Linked DNA regions of Homo sapiens. The main gene of each other region encodes a partner of the protein of the gene in region 2 in a complex. Each region holds a gene or a part of one and is shown on either strand. Other genes may lie near its edges.

The links.
Region 1: CDK9 (region 2) and EAF1 share a complex: the UniProt entries of both Homo sapiens proteins name them as parts of the super elongation complex.
Region 3: CDK9 (region 2) and EAF2 share a complex: the UniProt entries of both Homo sapiens proteins name them as parts of the super elongation complex.

Annotation. Positions count from the first base shown.
Region 1 is NC_000003.12:15,433,889-15,437,611, reverse strand, and holds part of EAF1 (ELL-associated factor 1), read right to left. Parts: intron 3,265-3,723; coding exon 3,074-3,264; intron 1,271-3,073; coding exon 1,037-1,270; intron 1-1,036. UniProt on the Homo sapiens protein: Acts as a transcriptional transactivator of ELL and ELL2 elongation activities.
Region 2 is NC_000009.12:127,784,760-127,788,833, reverse strand, and holds the start of CDK9 (cyclin-dependent kinase 9), read right to left. Parts: upstream 2,801-4,074; 5' UTR 2,686-2,800; coding exon 2,594-2,685; intron 2,134-2,593; coding exon 2,052-2,133; intron 1,317-2,051; coding exon 1,226-1,316; intron 888-1,225; coding exon 721-887; intron 621-720; coding exon 449-620; intron 291-448; coding exon 142-290; intron 1-141. UniProt on the Homo sapiens protein: Protein kinase involved in the regulation of transcription.
Region 3 is NC_000003.12:121,852,020-121,855,742, reverse strand, and holds part of EAF2 (ELL-associated factor 2), read right to left. Parts: intron 1,057-3,723; coding exon 920-1,056; intron 1-919. UniProt on the Homo sapiens protein: Acts as a transcriptional transactivator of TCEA1 elongation activity. Acts as a transcriptional transactivator of ELL and ELL2 elongation activities. Potent inducer of apoptosis in prostatic and non-prostatic cell lines.

The DNA.
Region 1 (3,723 bases), on a different chromosome or scaffold from region 2:
AGTATCAACTGCATTAAAACACACCGAGGCCAGGCATGGTGGTTCATGCTTTTAATCACAGCACTTCGGCAGTTGGGGAAATTACTTGTACCCAGGAGGAGTTCAAGACCAGCCTGGGCAAAACAGTGAGACCTTGTCTCTACAGAAAATTTTAAAAATGGCTGGGTATGGTGGCTCATGCCTATAATCTCGGCACTTTGGGAAGCCGAGGTGGGTGGATCACTTGAGTCTAGGAGTTTGAGACCAGCCTGGGCAATGTGGCGAAACCCTGTCTCTACCAAAAAAAAAAAAAAGGATCATGCCGCTGCACTCCAGCCTGGACAACAGATCAAGACTCTGTCTGAAGGAAAAAAAAAAAAAAAAAAGCCACCACACTGTCTGGGGACAGTGGATTCTTTTTTATAAAAGTTCAAGATAGGCAGGCATGGTGGTTCACACCCATAATCCCAGCACTTTGGGAGGCCGAGGCAGGCAGATCATTTGAGGCCAGGAGTTGGAGACCAGCCTGGCCAACATGGCAAAACCCCATCTCTACTAAAAATACAAAAATTAGCCAGGTGTGGTGGGACATGCTTGTAATCCCAGGTACTTGGGAGGCTGAAGCAGGAGAATCGCTTGAACCCGAGAGGTGGAGGTTGCAGTAAGCCGAGATTGCACCATTGCACTCCAGCCTGGGCGACAGAGTGAGACTCTGTCTCCAGAAAAAAGACCAATGGGCAGAGAGCAGTATGGTGGCAGGTAGCTCCCCGAAAGTCTGGTATAAAAGCAAAAACAGCCTATCTGTTCATGTTTTAGTGTTTTCTAGAATTCACAAACACCGGTATGAGCCAGTGGGGAATAGAAATAGAAAGAACAGATTTTTCATCTCATTTCCCTTTTTTACTGTTTAGTAACTCACACCTTTCTGCTCCAAACTATTTTTAACAAGATCCTCTCCCATGCCTTAAACATCTTTAGGTTTGTAAGTTCTGGCACAGGATAAATAGAAGCTGCACCTATGGCCCTCTCTCAGCCATAAAAAGGAGTACACACTTACTGAGGGTGTTCATGAGCTGGTTGCTTCCTTGTGGCCGGCTGGTTCCATTGGCAACGGCAGGCCTACTGTTGTAGGGCTGCTGGTGTGAAGGCTGCGGAGGAGAGGCTGGGCCATTGTCCTCGCCTCCACTGCTGGAGCTATCGTCATCACTTCCCGAAGAGCTCTCAGAGTCTGAAGAGCTGCTCCCACTGCTGCTGCTCATTTGTTCAATAATGTCAACTTCAGCCCTCAGCTCTGGAATAAAGGATATGACATGGATCAGCACAGCAGCCCTTTTCAAGGCAGTGCATTGGAGCTTCTATAAATAGTAAATCAGCAAAACCAACAGCAATAAGAAATAATTTAAAACAAAGTCCTACTTCTCAATACCTTAAAAAATGTACAAACAAAATTACCAAAACAAAAACACAGCCTGTTTCCAGAGACACAATGGAAACATTAAATTCACTCAAAATAAATAAAAAGCAAGACTGTTTCAGAATAATGGCTGTTCTGTGTAAGAAATGAATTAAGTCCATTTGCCTTTATCTACTAAAAGAAAAATTATGAATATTATGAACTATGGGATAAAACCATAATTCCCACATAAGAGAAGACAAATATTATGTAAAGTGGTTGAAAAATATTTGACTAGGAGTTGGGAGGTCTGAGTGCTTGTTTTGGATTTACCTCTAACCAGCAGTGACACCTAGGTAGAAGTCAATGAATTTTCCAAGCCACTCTGGAAAAATGAAAACCAGACAGCCTCTAAGGTCCTTTCCAGCTCTCATGTCCCATAAATAAATGGAGGTTTGCAGGAAGAACCATGGTGACTAAATAAAAATGGTAAAACAATATTCTTCCTCTTCACTCTTTACATATTTGACTGACAGCCATGCCTGTCAGGTACTGCATTTTTTACAGATATAAAATATCAATGTTAACTAACCATTTCAAGAAAGGCGCCAGATTTTCCTGTCTAGGCATACCATGTGGCCTTAAATGGCTATGGCTCCTTTAAGCATAATTGGCAACAACTAACCACTCATGCTCTGATTCCTATTCAACCTAAGTGAAAACTTCCATAACAGCATTCCAGTATCCATGAGGAAAAAAAAAAAGGGACAAAACAACTGTACACAGTGCAGAGTGATGTCTGCAGCCGTTCTACAGGGTGGAAAAGGCAAATTTCCCAGGGACAACTCTTTATGTTTCCCTACTATTATTATGGATTTAGTTATTTTATAAAACTTATAAATATGAAATATGACCTCACAACTTCTAAAGAGTCTGGAGGACTAAAACCATTCATCGTGTGAAGGAGAAAGCCAAGGTAAGCTTTTTTGTCTCAGGTTTGCAGTGGAGAGAACCAAACTGGACCTTTAACTCTTTCTAGGCCAGTATCTGTTTCTATTGGTCCTCATGGCCTCTTTCATATTTACACACTTTGTGTTAGCACAGGACATTTGCTTATGGTATTTTAAAAGGCATTTTAATCCTTTTTTTCCCCCCAAAAAAGAGATGTTATTGCCCAGGCTGGAGTTCAGTAGCTACCAACAGGCACGATCATAGCACACTGTAGCCTCAAACTCCCAACTTCAAGCGATCCTCCTGCCTCACAGTAGCTGAAACTACAAGTGTGCAGCACCATGGTCAGCTCCTCCAGCCTATATACTAATGTAGAGCTCAGAAAGGTTGCCACCTACGCTTAGTTTTCACCTCCAACACCTAGAATCCTTTCTTTCTCCGAAGCCTTAGAGGTGTGCCATATGGAGCTTAGATGGAAGTCATGCTTGTTTAAATCCTAGGCCTCTAAGCAGAATGGCTACAAAGATAGCCACAAACTCAAGTCACTATTCCAGGACTCACCCTTGTCAAATGAGGTAAGTGGCAGAAGCCCCCACCCTCCCCATCTCTGAACAGTGAGCTCTGCAGACATTTTTTTGATGGCATTGAATGCCCCAGCCACTGTATCAATACAGCAGCCATGTGATCTCCACAAGAAAATTCAGCACTCTACTCCAAGTTGCTATCATGGATCCAGAAAATGTTCTCTACCTCTTTTGATGTCATCCAACTGAGGTTCAGGTGAGGGGTTATCTTTCAAGGGAGAAGTTTTGGGTCCAACTGGAGGCTTCGTTGGAGCTCTGAATGGCATAGGTGGTGGAGGTGGTGGTGGCTGTGACGTCTGTGGAGGACGAGTGGGCTGCTGTTCCATTCGGGCCTGGATTTTACTGCTGCCCTCAGCTCTGAAAGGAGATACAGACATTAAATTAGCAGGGCAAAAATAGTGGTTCTCAAATTTGTCCAGGTGACTGAAAACTCAGAAGTCTCTGTAGAACCCCATGTTCTTTCCAGACCACTTCAAAATACTGATACTTGTAATTTTGTCATGTGAGCTATTCATTCAACATTTGAGTGTCTACTGTAATCCAGTACTATATTATGTATCAGGGATACAGACATGAATAGAATATTTACTGCCCTCGATGAGCTCAAATGTATAGCAAACAAATGTAGGATATAATGAAACTATGAAAATCCATTTTACTAGTAGAAAATACATTCATGCATCCCTTAACAATGAGGGTAAGTCCTGAGAACTGCATCATGAGGTGATTTCATCATGCAAACAGCAGAATGTACTTATGCAAACCAATATAGCATATAATTTTTTCACATGAAAACCCAAATGTCCCACCACCATA
Region 2 (4,074 bases):
ACACACTCCCCACCCCAAGACAGGCCCTGTCACCAAACCAGCCTCCCTTCCAGAGAGGAGCGCTCCTTCCATTCTACTCCCCACTCCTCCTCTGCCGGGGGACCTCGATCTCTGCACCCCGTGGGGACCGGGGCCCCGTACCTCAGGGGTGATGGAGCCGCAGAGCTGACTGATGAGGGCGAGTTGGTGCTGCTCCGTGTTGCCCTGCATGATGGGGCTGCGGGTCCACATCTCTGCCATGATGCACCCAGCACCCCACAGGTCAATGGGGGGGCCGTAGTCCCGCTCCCCTGGGAAGAAGAGCGCACCAGGAGGGCCCCTTGAGCCCGAGGGCCTCCTGAGGCTCAATGCCCCAGGGCCGGCAGCTCAAGAAGCCCTGGCAGTTGGGGGGAAGGGGCCAGGTAGATGCCTGGCCCTCACCCCCCTTGGCCCGCTCGGGAGTCCTCACCGAGCAACAGCTCCGGGGGCCGGTACCAGAGTGTCACCACACGGTTGGTGTAGCGGTTGGGCTGGCTGTTCTTGGCCAGGCTGAAGGCCCGGGCCAGCCCAAAGTCTGCCAGCTTCAGGACCCCATCACGAGTGATAAGCACATTAGCAGCCTTCATGTCCCTATGCAGGATCTGCAGGAAGGGCAAGAGTGGGTCCTTTAGTGACATCCACCCGGGAGTGGGAGCCAAGACCAGCCCAAGCCTGGGTCCTCCTCCCAGCTCTGGCCCCCACCTTGTTTCTGTGGATGTAGTAGAGGCCGTTAAGCAGCATCTGCATCACCCTCTTGATCTCAGACAGCGTGAACTTGACCAAAACATTGCTCAACAGCCCAGCAAGGTCATGCTCGCAGAAGTCGAACACCAGGTATATACTACCCTTGCAGCGGTTATAGGGGGAAGCTGAGGCAGGAATAGAAAGAAGAAAAAGTCAAGAAAACCACACCCAACACACTTTCCCACAACCAGCTTCTTTCTTCCTGCTCCAACCCACGGGCACCCATGCCCTCCAGAGCATCTGTCTGTTCCTTCCTTCACCGGTCAAATATTTTCTGAGTGCCTCTTCTGGGCCAGGGCAGGCCCCGAGGAAGCACCAGCTACGATGAAAGAGGACCAGAAAAAGCAGTCACCATGGGTCCATCTGAGTTAAGAAGAGGCAGTTTAGGTGTGCCTAGTTCCAAGTTTACAAACAAAACCTTAGGCTACAAGTGTCATCTTCTCGTAAGAACCAAATAACTTACCTTTGGTTCGACAAATCTCAATCAAGTTGACCACATTCTCGTGTTTTAGAAGCTGAAGGATCTTGATCTCCCGCAAGGCTGTAATGGGGAACTGGGTGAGAAAGAGGGGAAAGTGGTCAAGAGTGAGCGCAGTACAGAGCCCAGCCCTGGGGTCTGTACTGACAGCCAAGTTGGGAGACAGAGCAAGATCATGGGCTCTGAAACCAGCTGTCTCAGAAGCCTTGTCTATAAAATGGATATTAGTAGCATGCACACTTCAAGATGATGGTTTGAGACAACAAACTGAAACAGCAATACTTTGCTATTAGCCACTAAACGCTCGGCGGTTTCAGTCTTCAAATTTCAGCTCTATGGCTGTTTCGTTGGCAACAAACATGATGATTTAAAAATGTCCTTGCTAATGCACATTACGCAAAAGAAGGTTTATGGGAAGTTGTACTAGAGCTAAGATGGGGTGGAGAAGGGACCGCTCCTTTTAAATACATTAAATAATTGAGTATCAGACACCTTTCAAAAAGCATGCATATATAATCTTTCTTTTACATTAAGCGAAATTTAACACTAAAAAAAGGTGTTTAAAGGCTTCCTAACTTCGTGAAATAAAGTGCACACGATGCATGCATCAACTCCCCCTCCTGGCCTCACCCATAACTGCCTAAGAATGAAACATTTAGTTTTAGGGTGGAAGCCACATTCCCTGGAAATTTCTGAACTACTACAAAAAAATTAAATCTCAACCTGAGACTCCCAGAAGCAGCAGGGTGGAAAACCGACCCGGGGTCCCGGGCAGTTAGCCGGCCGGCCCGCACGCCCGATCCGTACTCACCCCCTCCTTCTCGTTTTCCATCAGCACCTTCTTCAGAGCCACCTTCTGGCCGGTCTTGCGGTGCCTGGCCTTGAACACCTCCCTGCAGGCGGAAAGGGAGACCCGAGAACTCATCAGGCCATTTCCGCAGGGCCCGCCCCTCCCCCACTACAGGAGGAGGGGCAGCAGCAAAGAGATTCCCGGGCGGGGCTGGGCTAGGTACCCAGGGCACGCGGCTACCCCGCCACCCGGCAGCCTGTCTCGTTCGGAGCCTCTGCTTCCTTCCCTCAGTCCCTTCTCCTCACTTGGGCGTCCCTTGGAGAGATCCCGCTCCCCTCACGGGCGCCTCTCTGCAGCCCCTCCCCGCCCCCACCACGGGCCTCAGGCTCCTCCCCACCAGCCGGCTCCGTCAGGCCGGGGCGGGGTGCGGCGCGGCCTAGAGACCAGCAGGCAAGCCCGGGGACAGACGACTTCTCTACCAACTCGGGGGGGGCCCGGGCATCCCGACGTCGGCCCTAGGGGTGCAGGCCCAGGGCTCCCGGCCCCGAGGGGCCCAGCCTTACCCGAAGGTGCCTTGGCCGATCTTGGCGAGCTTCTCGTATTTGGAAACTTCATCACAAAAAGGGCACTCCACCGAGTCGTACTGCTTTGCCATGGCCGCCTCCAACGCGCCGCCGCCGCCCCCAGTCGCTGCTGCCGCCGCTCCTGCTCCGGGTCCCGCCGCCGCCGCACTCCAGGCCCCTCCGCGGCCGCGCCACTTCCGCCTCCACGGCCACTTCCGGCCTCGCGGCGCCGACCCCGCCTCTTCCGCCCGCCGCCCACCGCCAGGCCCCCTGGGACTTGTAGTTCCCGAGAGGCCAGGGGGAGCCGGAGCTGCAGAGGCGCCTCCGCCGCCGCCGCCGCTGCCCCCGCCTCCGCCGCCGCCACTACTAGCGGCGGCCCCGATCGGGGGCGCGGGGAGCCGGGGCGCCGGAGCTGGGGCTCGGGGTGGCGCGTCCCGCTGCATGGGCCCGGGCCGCCGCTGCTGCCGAAGCTGCTGCCGCTCTGGCGCCCGATCCGGGGCCAGCCGCAGTGCCCTGCTCCTCCTCCTCCGACGGCGCCGCCTCCGCCGGGCTGCGCGGGGCGGCGGGCGGGGGGTCAGCCCCCGAGCCGCGGCCTGGGAGCTCCCTGGCCGGACCCGGGCCCGGGGCGGCCGGGCGAGGGGGCGAGACGGGAAGAGCCGACTAGGAGACGGCCCGAGAGCCCAGGAGGGGGCGCGTTATAAAGGGGGAGGTGCCCGGCCTCGCCCTCCCCTCCTCCTCCGCCCGCCCCCGCCCTCCTCCCTCCCACCCTCCGCGGCCGCACCTGCCGCCGCCGCCACCGCCCGCCCGCTCGCTGTCCGCCGGCCGCCCTCGGCGCGTCACCGCCCGCGGCCCCTCCTCCGCCTTCGGAGGTGGGGCCCCGCGCTCGGCACCTGGCTGCGGGCGCCCTGCCGCGTGCCTCAGTTTACCCCCACATGTCGGCTGCAGCGGAAAGCCCCTTCCTCCCCGGCTCGGAGTGCCCCCACAGAGGCGAAGGCGGGAGGCGCGGAGGGAGCGTCCTCCGGCCCTGGGAGGAGAGAACGGCCCCCGCCTCCGCCTCCCCCGGTCCCCGCCACCCTCCGTTGACATGGCAACCGACGGCCGCCAGGGGGCGCGGCGGCACTAGCGGCGACGAGCAAGCAACGCCCGGGCCTTCTATCGCTGGGGTCTGGCTCTCCGGGAGGCAGGGATGGGACCCGCAGGACTCCCACCTCCGCTGAGTCGTGCCAGAGCTGGTCGGGCCCCGAGTCAGTAATCGCAAAAAACAGCTACCATTTTCTCAGCACTCTTGTGTACTCAGGAAGTGCTGGGCGTTCCCGCCGAATCCTGAATCAACAGCCCCATAGTCAGGATCACTAACCCATTTTGCAGAAGAAGACGTTGAGGCTCAGAGGTGAGGTCATTTGCCCAAGGTCACACGGCGACAAAGTTGGGACCCGAACCTGGGTGTCTGAGTGAGGGGATTCTCTTGACTCACGCTATTC
Region 3 (3,723 bases), on a different chromosome or scaffold from region 2:
GTATACACAGGTACAGAGACAAACCTCTGCTCCGTTCAAGTAGGTCTTACTCATTGGCCCTGAATAAATCAGATATCAAACTTGTCTTACATTCTCATCTCCTCTCTAATCAATTAAATCGGTATTGCACAAACTTTCTTCTGGTGTGAATCACAGCAGGGCATGGATGGTAGGGGTGAGGGGATATTAAAAAATAGAGTTTCCCAGGATCCTTCCCTGATTTAAGGTTGGATTCGGGAACTAATTTTTAACAAGCACCCAAGGTAATTCTTATGATCCTAACCTCCTCTTAAGGTACATCAAAAAGGCCTCCCTGAATTTTCCAATCTACCATTACTTCTCCTTTTTCTTAATTCCTAGAGCAATTTTTGTCTATACTATTTGCATGGCTTTTAGAGCAAACATCCTTATATTACAGGGTAAGTAATGTGTTACCTATTTCCAAAAAGGATTTGAGATGGGTATATTCTCCTATTGACTTTTTAAATGGAATAGTCTGTTTATCTGAATAAAATGCAGAAGTTTTGAGGTGTTTGCAGAGCAAACTTTCCTTTTTCTAGTACCTTACACATCCTAGGTACTCAATAAATTTTTACTAATGAAGATGAAATTATTTTAGAGAATGTATAATGGCTTCCTTCAATCCAGTTATACAGAAGTATCTACAATAGGATAAAAAGTGTACCTATACCTATAGAAAGCATTTAGAAGCAAAACAAGCTTTTATATATCACAGGGTAATGTGGTAAAACGCTTTTTGCTTAGGATCTCCACCAAATTTAAACTTAGAAAAAGATTAAAACATTTTTGTACCACACAGAAATAACTCCTATATTATAATGTGACTTAATAAATTTTTTATTGACATTTCCTTAGAAATTTATGTTTATAATATAATTTATTTCATTAAACCACATACCTTGTTTTTTTTACAGTGATGTTGCTGCTGAGTTTTTCTAGCCGACATTCTCCAGTATCATGGTTAATAATCAAAATGCATTCTTTTAAGTAAGGTTTTTTTGAACCTTTGAAAACAGTTACTGGTGGAGTTGAACCCTGTTTAAAAAGTTAATTATTATTACTTAAAATTTATCATAGGAATTCACTTGGGAAGGCCTTTGAAATCTTGATTCTGGGTTTCTCCTTCTATGTTATACTTCAAGTCACCCATAAACTACCTAAATTTACTACCCTGAATCCAAAGAGTGTAGTAAAAAAGACAGATGAAGATAGGCTGAAATCTCAAAGCTGCTGTCATTGAGGAAAGGGAAGACAGGAGGTACTCACCTTGGGACAGTAAAGATTTGTTTCTTTGGCCTATAATGAGTAATTGAGATTCAATTCGAACACAACCAATATATTTTATGGATAAGGAAACAGAGCCTTGAATCATATTTTCTATTCCTCCTTTTTTTTTTTTTTTTTTTGAGACAGAGTCTTGCTCTGTTGCCCGGGCTGGAGTGCAGTGGCACGATCTCGGCTCACTGCAACCTCCACCTCCTGGATTCAAGTGATTCTCCTGCCTCAGCCTCCAGAGCAGTTGGGACTATAGGCATGGACAACCACGCCCAGCTAATTTTTATATTTTTAGTAGAGACGGGGTTTCACCATGTTGGTCAGGCTGGTCTCGAACTCCTGACCTCAAGTGATCCACCCATCTCAGTCTCCCAAAGTGCTGTGATTACAGGCAGAAGCCACTGTGCCCAGCCTCCTCATCTTCTTTCTTATTGCTTTATAAGTTTAATTTTTAAAATCTGGCATTTTCTTAAAGCAGTACCTCCCTATGCATATTAAGGAACACCTCTTACACTAAACCCACTAATTAAATTTAGCATAATTAAAAGTAAGATAAGCAGACATTATGTGCTTAATGATGTCATATGAAAGTACACTGCGCCATCCATAAAATACTCTTGCCAAAAACCACACAAAAACCCCAAAGAATTTAATTCTTATCAAACCCCAAAGAATCTGTAATCCAGCCTGCCCTTAGATATATAACTACCAATATATAGAAAATAGAAGGAATAGAGGAACAAGTTAAATACATCCAGATAGAAGTAATTTGAAGTCCAGAATGTAGGTATATTCTCTAGGACAGATAGTACGGTTTTTCCAACAAACCAATGGCATAAAAAAGAGAAGAGAGCCAGGTGCAGGCACTGTAGTACCAGCTACTTGTGGAGGATGGGTGCTGAAGCAGGAGGACAGCTTGAAGCCAGGAGTTCTAGGCTTCAGTGTGACATAATCACACCCGTGAATAGCCACTGCACTCCAACCTGGGCAACACAGTGAGACCCTGTCTCTAAAAAAGATAAATTAAAAAAGGGGTGGAGAAGAAAGGAAGGGACTTTTAAAGAATAAAAGAGACAAGAAATACAATATTCAAATACAATGTAGAAATCTTATTTGGATTCTAGTTAGGACATTTTACAGACAAATGTCTGTAAAAAACACGTTTTTGAGATCATCACAAAATTGTGACTATGGACGAAGTATTATCAATTATGTTATTTGTGATAATAGCATGGTGCTTAGATAGAAATGTCCTTATCAGTTAGAGATACATAAGTAAGCATTGATGAAATGGCACATTGTCTGGGATTTGCTATAAAATATGCCAAGGAAAAAAATGGTAAGACATTAGATTAAAAAATAAAAAGATTAGCAAAATGTTGATAATTGTTAAAGCTCAGTGATGGGTACATGTAATTCATTATACAATTCTGTTGGCAATAAAAGAAACCTAGATCATTACTAATAAACTACATCTACTTACATGCTCCTCCCCTATCTTTTGTCCCTGCTCCATCAAACCTGAAGGAATTTTACGTTTGTCATTCTTTTGCTTTATCCCACATATATGTATTTCTAAACAATTATTTGTGTATGTTTGTCTTTGGAGTTTATAAAAGTACATTAAATTTTAATGGATTTATCATAATAATTTTATCAAATATTACAAAAATAATAAAATAGTACTGTTAGATCAGGTTAGAAAAGGATGACCTCTAAAAAGGCTAAGTGGTGTATCATATTAAAGTTAATCATTAGAGATTTACTAAATGAGCACTAGGAGGAGTATAAGATAAATTAGGTAATTGAAAATGCCATAAAAGATGGGTAGGTTAGAGATTTCTGAAGGTATGGAGGGAAAATTATAAATGTAAAATAAAGGAACAGTTGTTTGTGGGTTTTTTACCTCTCCCAAAGACTAAAGTAATCTACAGAAAATCAAGAATGCACAACACGTAGATGAAGACATGTCTGGGCTAGCTCTAAAACGGTTAGATGTGGAGCACTTAGTTGAAGCCCTGGTAAGCTGGAGAGTCAGGAGCATGATTATAACCAAACAAAGTGGGTCTACTTGGCTGGTAAGTAAATTTTTCAGATGTGTTGACTGAAACAAGTAAGATACCCCAAAATAGTTACCTAAGGACTCCAAATTACAGTTGATAAGAGATTTGTGCAAGATATTCTTAATGATATCTGTACTCTTAATTAGAATGGAATACATCTAAAAATTACAATGTATTATTGTTCTCTGAGCTCCTGAAAATAAGAACTAATCATTAATTTTTAAAAAATTGCTCTCAGCACCTGAAGAAGTATCAAGACCTTTATAAATATTCAATGAAGGTTAAATATGAATAATATAGACAATTTCTGGTCATAAGTAACAAATGAAACAAATCTTTCATAATCTCTACACCTGCCATCTAC